Homo sapiens: one gene and its partner. The protein of the gene in region 1 purifies or fractionates together with the protein of each later gene. This does not show direct contact. Each region holds a gene or a part of one and is shown on either strand. Other genes may lie near its edges.

Region 1 (2,439 bases):
TGTTGGCCAGGCTGGTTTCTAACTCCTGACCTCAGATGATCTGCCCGCATCGGCCTCCCAAAGTGCTGGGATTACAGGCGTGAGTCACTGCGCCTGGACAGAAATAACTAATATGGTGACCAATTTGGACCAGGATGTGGGCTTCCCTACGGTAGGCAGCTTAACAAGGTCCTTTCCAGACAAGTCGTTGTGCCTGCAATTTTCCTGGATCTTTAAGTTACTTAACATTTCTAAGTCTTAATTCCTGTGGCACTAAAATGGGGGAAATCACTTCAATGATTCGGAACAAGAAATCAAATATACGTAAAATGGCTGGTACATGGTACACAATGAATATTCATTCTCTTCCTCCAAACTTTAACATATCACTTACTATATAAATATCCAATTGTCTTTTGTTCAAATATCTTAAAATTTGTACAGCAGAAGAGTATGATTTTACATATAACAAACAGCTTAAATAAAGAACCAGGAGCTTTTTTTTTTAATCTGAAAAACAGTTTTGCCACAATTCTTCAAATGTTTTTATTGGATTTAAAATTCATTTAAGGGGTATACAGATATACAACTAGTTTGATCAGCTACTAATATATTTTGGTGTCCCTTTATTTTTGTACCCAAGAGCCAGTTCACTTTTTCTCCATGTTCAATATTTAGCTTTGGTAAAATGTTGCCATGTTCTTCCTCATCTGTTACTGAAGCGTTAGTATTTCCACCCTGCTTGGTGCAAGTTCCTCTTTTAGGTTTCTTCCTGTGGGTACGTTTTGTGGGACTCTTCTGTTTTTTCTCAACTTCACTGTTTGCATCCCACAACGTGATCTTCCCATCATTCCCTCCAGTAAGCAGCAAATAGGATTCTGGGAGAAAGCAGACCTGGGATACCCCTGAAGTGTGGCCCTTAAATCCCAGTTCCTGTTCACACTTAACTCCCATCACCCGAAAGATTCGAACCTTACCATCTTCTGCACCACAACTAAAAATATTACCACACGAAGCCACAGAGATAGAATGGGCTAGGGCAGGGTTTAAGAGCTGACCAGGTGACTGTGGGCCTTCCATTTCTTCTGTTTCATCCTCCTGTAAATTTGTAATCCAGAGTGGTCGGGCTTTTTGAAGACTCCACAGCATCACCTTTACATAAGAAGAAATTACACAGTCATACAAAATGCTAGCCAATTTGCTCAACTATCATGCTTATTCAGCTTCTAATAAAATCGTTAAAGTAGTCTGAGAATGAGCAGTAGTGCACGTTCTCAGCAGTATTAAAAAATAATCAAATGCTGCCATAACATGCCAGTGGAATGCTACCCCGGGACTAAAACTAGAGTGCGGTTAGGTAGAATTAAACAAGATCCTGAATAATTTTTGATTAATAAACTCCATTAAAGTGTAATTGTTAAGCAGCTGCCAGTTTCTAAAGGTTTTTCTGCTCTCATCTCTTCAAGTAAAACCAAAGATTATCAAATTTGCTAGTTTTAGTCTATGCTGGTTATAGGTCAAAAGGCCTATCAACTAAATAAACTCGATCTGGACTATCATTGAAATGCTTTCCATCTGGAATGCCTTCCTTTCCTTTCACATTACCCAATTACCCATCCAAGGGGCTTAAGCTCAGTCCTGGTGCCTCCAAGAAGGCTTTCCTATTTCAGCCCGCTTCTCCTTCCTGTATCTAGTTTCTATTCTATTAATTGACATATTCTACTAGCTTATCAGTTTCTTGAGACTTACTTAGTCTTTGCTAATGCCTAGCATAATGGCTGAGAAAGAGGAGAAATTCCAAACATGTCTGTTGATTAATATGACATCCTGGTATTAATTTCATTTGGCTTTTCGTTGTTCCCGACCTGGTGCTTTTTGTTTTTTTTAAATAAGCTTTGTGAATGGGTTTTACATTATCATCTAGTGATTCATTCTTTTCCTGTATCAACCATTTTGCAAAGAAAAATACTCTTAATACTTTCAAAGCAAACAGACAGCTTTATCATGTAGTTTACCATCATCCCTGAATTATAACTCACAATTTTAACAGACACTGGAAGAAGCATGAGCTTGTTTAGACAGTGAAAAGCATAGATCTGAATTGGCAAGATTACTATTGCTAATGCTATTAAGAATTTGGTTTCCTATTCAAGGTAACTTCCCTTATGATTATTCTCAGTGGCCTATTTTCAAAAGCAGTGACATCTAGTAACACTTACATTCTGCTTCTCTTAGATGAAAATCTCTTTGAATTGGATTTATAACATTATACTATGTGACTAACAATCACTGTTTGGGTGAAGTTAAAGTACGAACAAATTGAAATAAGCTAAAGTAAAATAAATAAATATTAGAAAATATAACACGAAGGAGTGCTGAAACTTGATATGAAAATAGTTTTTTTTTTAAAAATAGGGTCTCACTTTGTCACCCAGGCTAGAGTGCAGTGGCATGACCATG
Region 2 (3,500 bases), on another chromosome or scaffold:
GTACCTTGAAAACATTATGCTAAATTAAAGAAGTCAGACACTAAAGGCCACATATTGTATGGTTCCTTTTACATGAAATGTTCAGAACAGGCAAATCTAGAGAAGCAGAAAGTAGATTAGTGGTTATCAAGGGCTGGGGTTGGAGGCATTGGGGAGTGATTGGTAATGATATGGGATTTCTTTTGGGAATGAATGAAAATATTCTAAAATTGGTATTTATGTAATTTTATGAATATGTTAAAAACCACTGAATTGTATACTTTAAGAGAGTGAATTTTATGTTATATCTCAATAAAGCTGTGATAAAACAACCCATTCTACACAAAACAAAATATTTGATAAGTGAATGAATGGATCTCTTCACATTATATGTACTTGAAAGTGTATCTCAGAGTTTGTTTCATGTCAGTACTTATTATTAGTGTACAATGTTTATTTTAAAAGCGCATTGATGGATATTTAAGTTGTTTCCAATCTTTTGCTATTGCAGGCAATAGTTCGTCGAATAGCCTTATATTCAGGTCATTCCACAAAAGTGTGGGTATTTGTAAGATGAATTCCTGCAAGTGGAATTGCTAGGTCAAAGGGTGTGTACATTTTAAAGCATGAACTGATGTTGCCAAATTGCTGAGCATAAAGGTGTACCTGTGTACCCTCCTACCAGCCGTGTACCAGTGAGCTTGTTTCGCCACAGCTTCATTCACACAGTGAGGAATCCAACCACTGATCTCTGCCAATCTGATCAGTAATCCGCGGTATCTCATTTTCATCTAAATTTGCATTTCTCTCAGAGAGAGGTTGGATGGATCATTTGCATTCCTTGTATTCTTGGAAGCTCTGCAGCTGCATTAGTGTTGAGGGGTGCAGAGCAGTGTGGGAAAGTAGGATCAGGGCTCTCCCCTCAGGGACTCCTCCCAGAACCTCCAGAATAGGTTGTGAGTGACAATGTGAAACAGCTTTGCCATCATTCATCACGAATGTCTGCTGGGCGTCTTCTCTGTGTGGGATGCTGTTCCAGGTTCACAAAAGAGTGAAGAGAGCTGATTAATCAGGAGGGCTCTCTCAGTGCTTTAAAAGTCCTTCAGCATTAGAAGTGCAGTCCTTCCACTGCTCATGCCTACACTTGGATTAAGAGGCACATATCAAGAGGCACAAGTCAGTGGCCTGATGTTACGTCTGCATGCATTAGATGACATTGGTTGGGCTTACACAAACCAGATTCAGGTAAAATTTTAGTATTTATTTTGTGTTTTCTTTCAGGAACTGTCTATCTTGACCATGCAGGTGCCACCTTGTTCTCCCAGAGCCAGCTCGAAAGCTTCACTAGTGATCTCATGGAAAACACTTATGGTAAAGAAAAACACCTGAAACAGGTTTTAGTCAACTACATGCAGCTGATATACCTGTGCATGTTAAACGCTGGATTAATAGGCCAGGAATATTCTGACCACAAAAAGCTGAATAAGCCCCATGTAAGATAGGGGCCAGGCAAGCACCCTGGGTCATTCTGTACTGTAAACATGTGGCCGGGATGGAGGGAGCTGGCTCAGGGACAGACACACAGGTTACTACCAGAAGAAGAGGCCAGTGTTAGGAAGGGCACAGAGATTCAAAGGTGCTGTATTTGGTGGTGGTGAGTGACCCTGTATAGTGCAGAGAGTGGGGCAGCAGGAGGGATGTTAATTCAGTCATTCACTCTATAACTGTTCATTGAGCCACTATGATGTGTGGGGGACAGTGCTATAATGGGAACAAAATAAACATATCCCTTTCTTCTTGGACACTGTGATCTAGTCCTGGAAGACAAGACCTTAAGTGAACTCCAAATAGATGTGATTACCAACTGTGTGAAGGACTATGGACAAAAGGTGCCTGGTTCCAGGCCAGCCTGTATCTGCAGTGACAGTGGGGTTGGCTTGTGCATGTCTAGGGAAAGCTTCCTTTGGAGTGGAGTGGATGCTGGAGGATGAGCCAGAATTCACTCAGACAAGAGGGGGAGAAGTGCGAGCAGGCAGGGTAACAGCCTGAGCCAAGATCCCATAGTGGTTTCAGGAACCAGTCCAGGAACACGGAAGGGAGAAGAGTGGGAGAGGTCTGAATGGGGAGGGAGGGAGAAGAAGCCAGTGCAGGGCATTGTAGATGCTTGATCTTTGTTCTAGGAGCAATGGCATTGTCATCAGTGGCATTTATTTGCAGCACAACATGATCTCACATACTTTGGAAAGGGAACTTGAAATCATAGTGGCAGTAGCAATTGTAATATTTGTGATGAGAATAACGATAAGTAACATTTATCAGGTACTCGCTATGAGCTTTCTCTCTTCAGCCTCACAACAACCCAAGAGGCATAGGTTCTGGTATCACTCCTGTTTTATAGGTGAAGAAATGGGGCCCCAGAGAGGGCAAGTAACTAGCCTGAGGCTGCACAGGAAGGACTGGAGCTTGGAGGAGCTAGAAGCTGTGTTTGCAGGCAGTTTAGCTCCAGAGCCCAAGCCCTTAGCCTCCACCAGAGTGCCTCGATTCAGGATACTTCTGTTATGCCACATTAAGGGGTTTGGATTTTGGCTCTGGGCAGCCAGCAGATATTTAAATCTGGGGAACAGTCTTCTGGGAAGGTGCCAAGGAGGGATTTATCCTGATTTTAATCTGCAGTTTGCAAAGGTTCTTGTAATTCTCCTTCTTTAACCTTTGCAAGAGCCATAACCGTGGGAAAGCCTGAGAGATGGCAGAGTTGAGATTGCAGGTGGTGGTAATGATGCAGCGCTAAAGCCAAGCAGAGGAAAGGCAATGAGGATAATTACCAGGTCCCACAGGTTACTAGCAATGTGGAAACAGAACATATGGTAGCTGCAGTGGCCAGAAATCCAGTGCAATCTTTCAGTGTATTTTGGAGGAAAAAAAAAGTCTAAAACTAAAGGGCAAATTCTGCGTTAATGAGCACATGTAGCTCCTGAGAAATGCTGGTGCCTGGTCTTATAGGTCAGGCCCTACCAAAGCCTGTCTGGGGGTTAAGTTTGAGGGAGGTCATGATACTCTGGGACACATTTGGTGAGGACACCAGGAAGGGAGCAAAACTAGAAGTTAAGAGGAAGAGTGACATTGGGAGGAGGGCCTTCCTCCTTGAAAGTGGATGGCTAAGGGCAGCACAGTGGCCCCCTTCACATATTTGGAGGCCGGGATCAATTATTTCTGCAGGAAAGGCATCAGCAGTGGTGGTGGGATCTGCAGGGCAATACGTGGGGACTTAGATTAAGTGGCGTTCATGGCTCTGCTTCATGCTTGGAGAAAAGGGCATCCTCCTGAGGCTGTATACTGCATTCTCTGGAGTTAAACAGAGCCACAGCCACCTGTCTGGAACATGTAGAACAGACTCTTGCACTGGCCTGCTTCTGAGCTGACTTCCAGCTCTAAAATACTCTTCCCGATCACATTTGGTTTTACTAGTGAGGAGAGATTTTTTTTTTTAACTATATCATAAAATTTACCAGCTGGGTACAGTG

What was found. Proteins that work in one complex are often made in the same cells at the same time.
Region 2: the proteins of WDR53 (region 1) and MOCOS purify together in Homo sapiens (affinity purification with mass spectrometry; one large-scale study listed by BioGRID and IntAct). This does not show direct contact.

The regions. Positions count from the first base shown.
Region 1 is NC_000003.12:196,553,677-196,556,115, forward strand, and holds the end of WDR53 (WD repeat-containing protein 53), read right to left. Parts: intron 1,132-2,439; coding exon 535-1,131; 3' UTR 501-534; downstream 1-500.
Region 2 is NC_000018.10:36,193,997-36,197,496, forward strand, and holds part of MOCOS (molybdenum cofactor sulfurase), read left to right. Parts: exon of another isoform or gene 1-311; intron 312-1,260; coding exon 1,261-1,350; intron 1,351-3,500. UniProt on the Homo sapiens protein: Sulfurates the molybdenum cofactor. Sulfation of molybdenum is essential for xanthine dehydrogenase (XDH) and aldehyde oxidase (ADO) enzymes in which molybdenum cofactor is liganded by 1 oxygen and 1 sulfur atom in active form.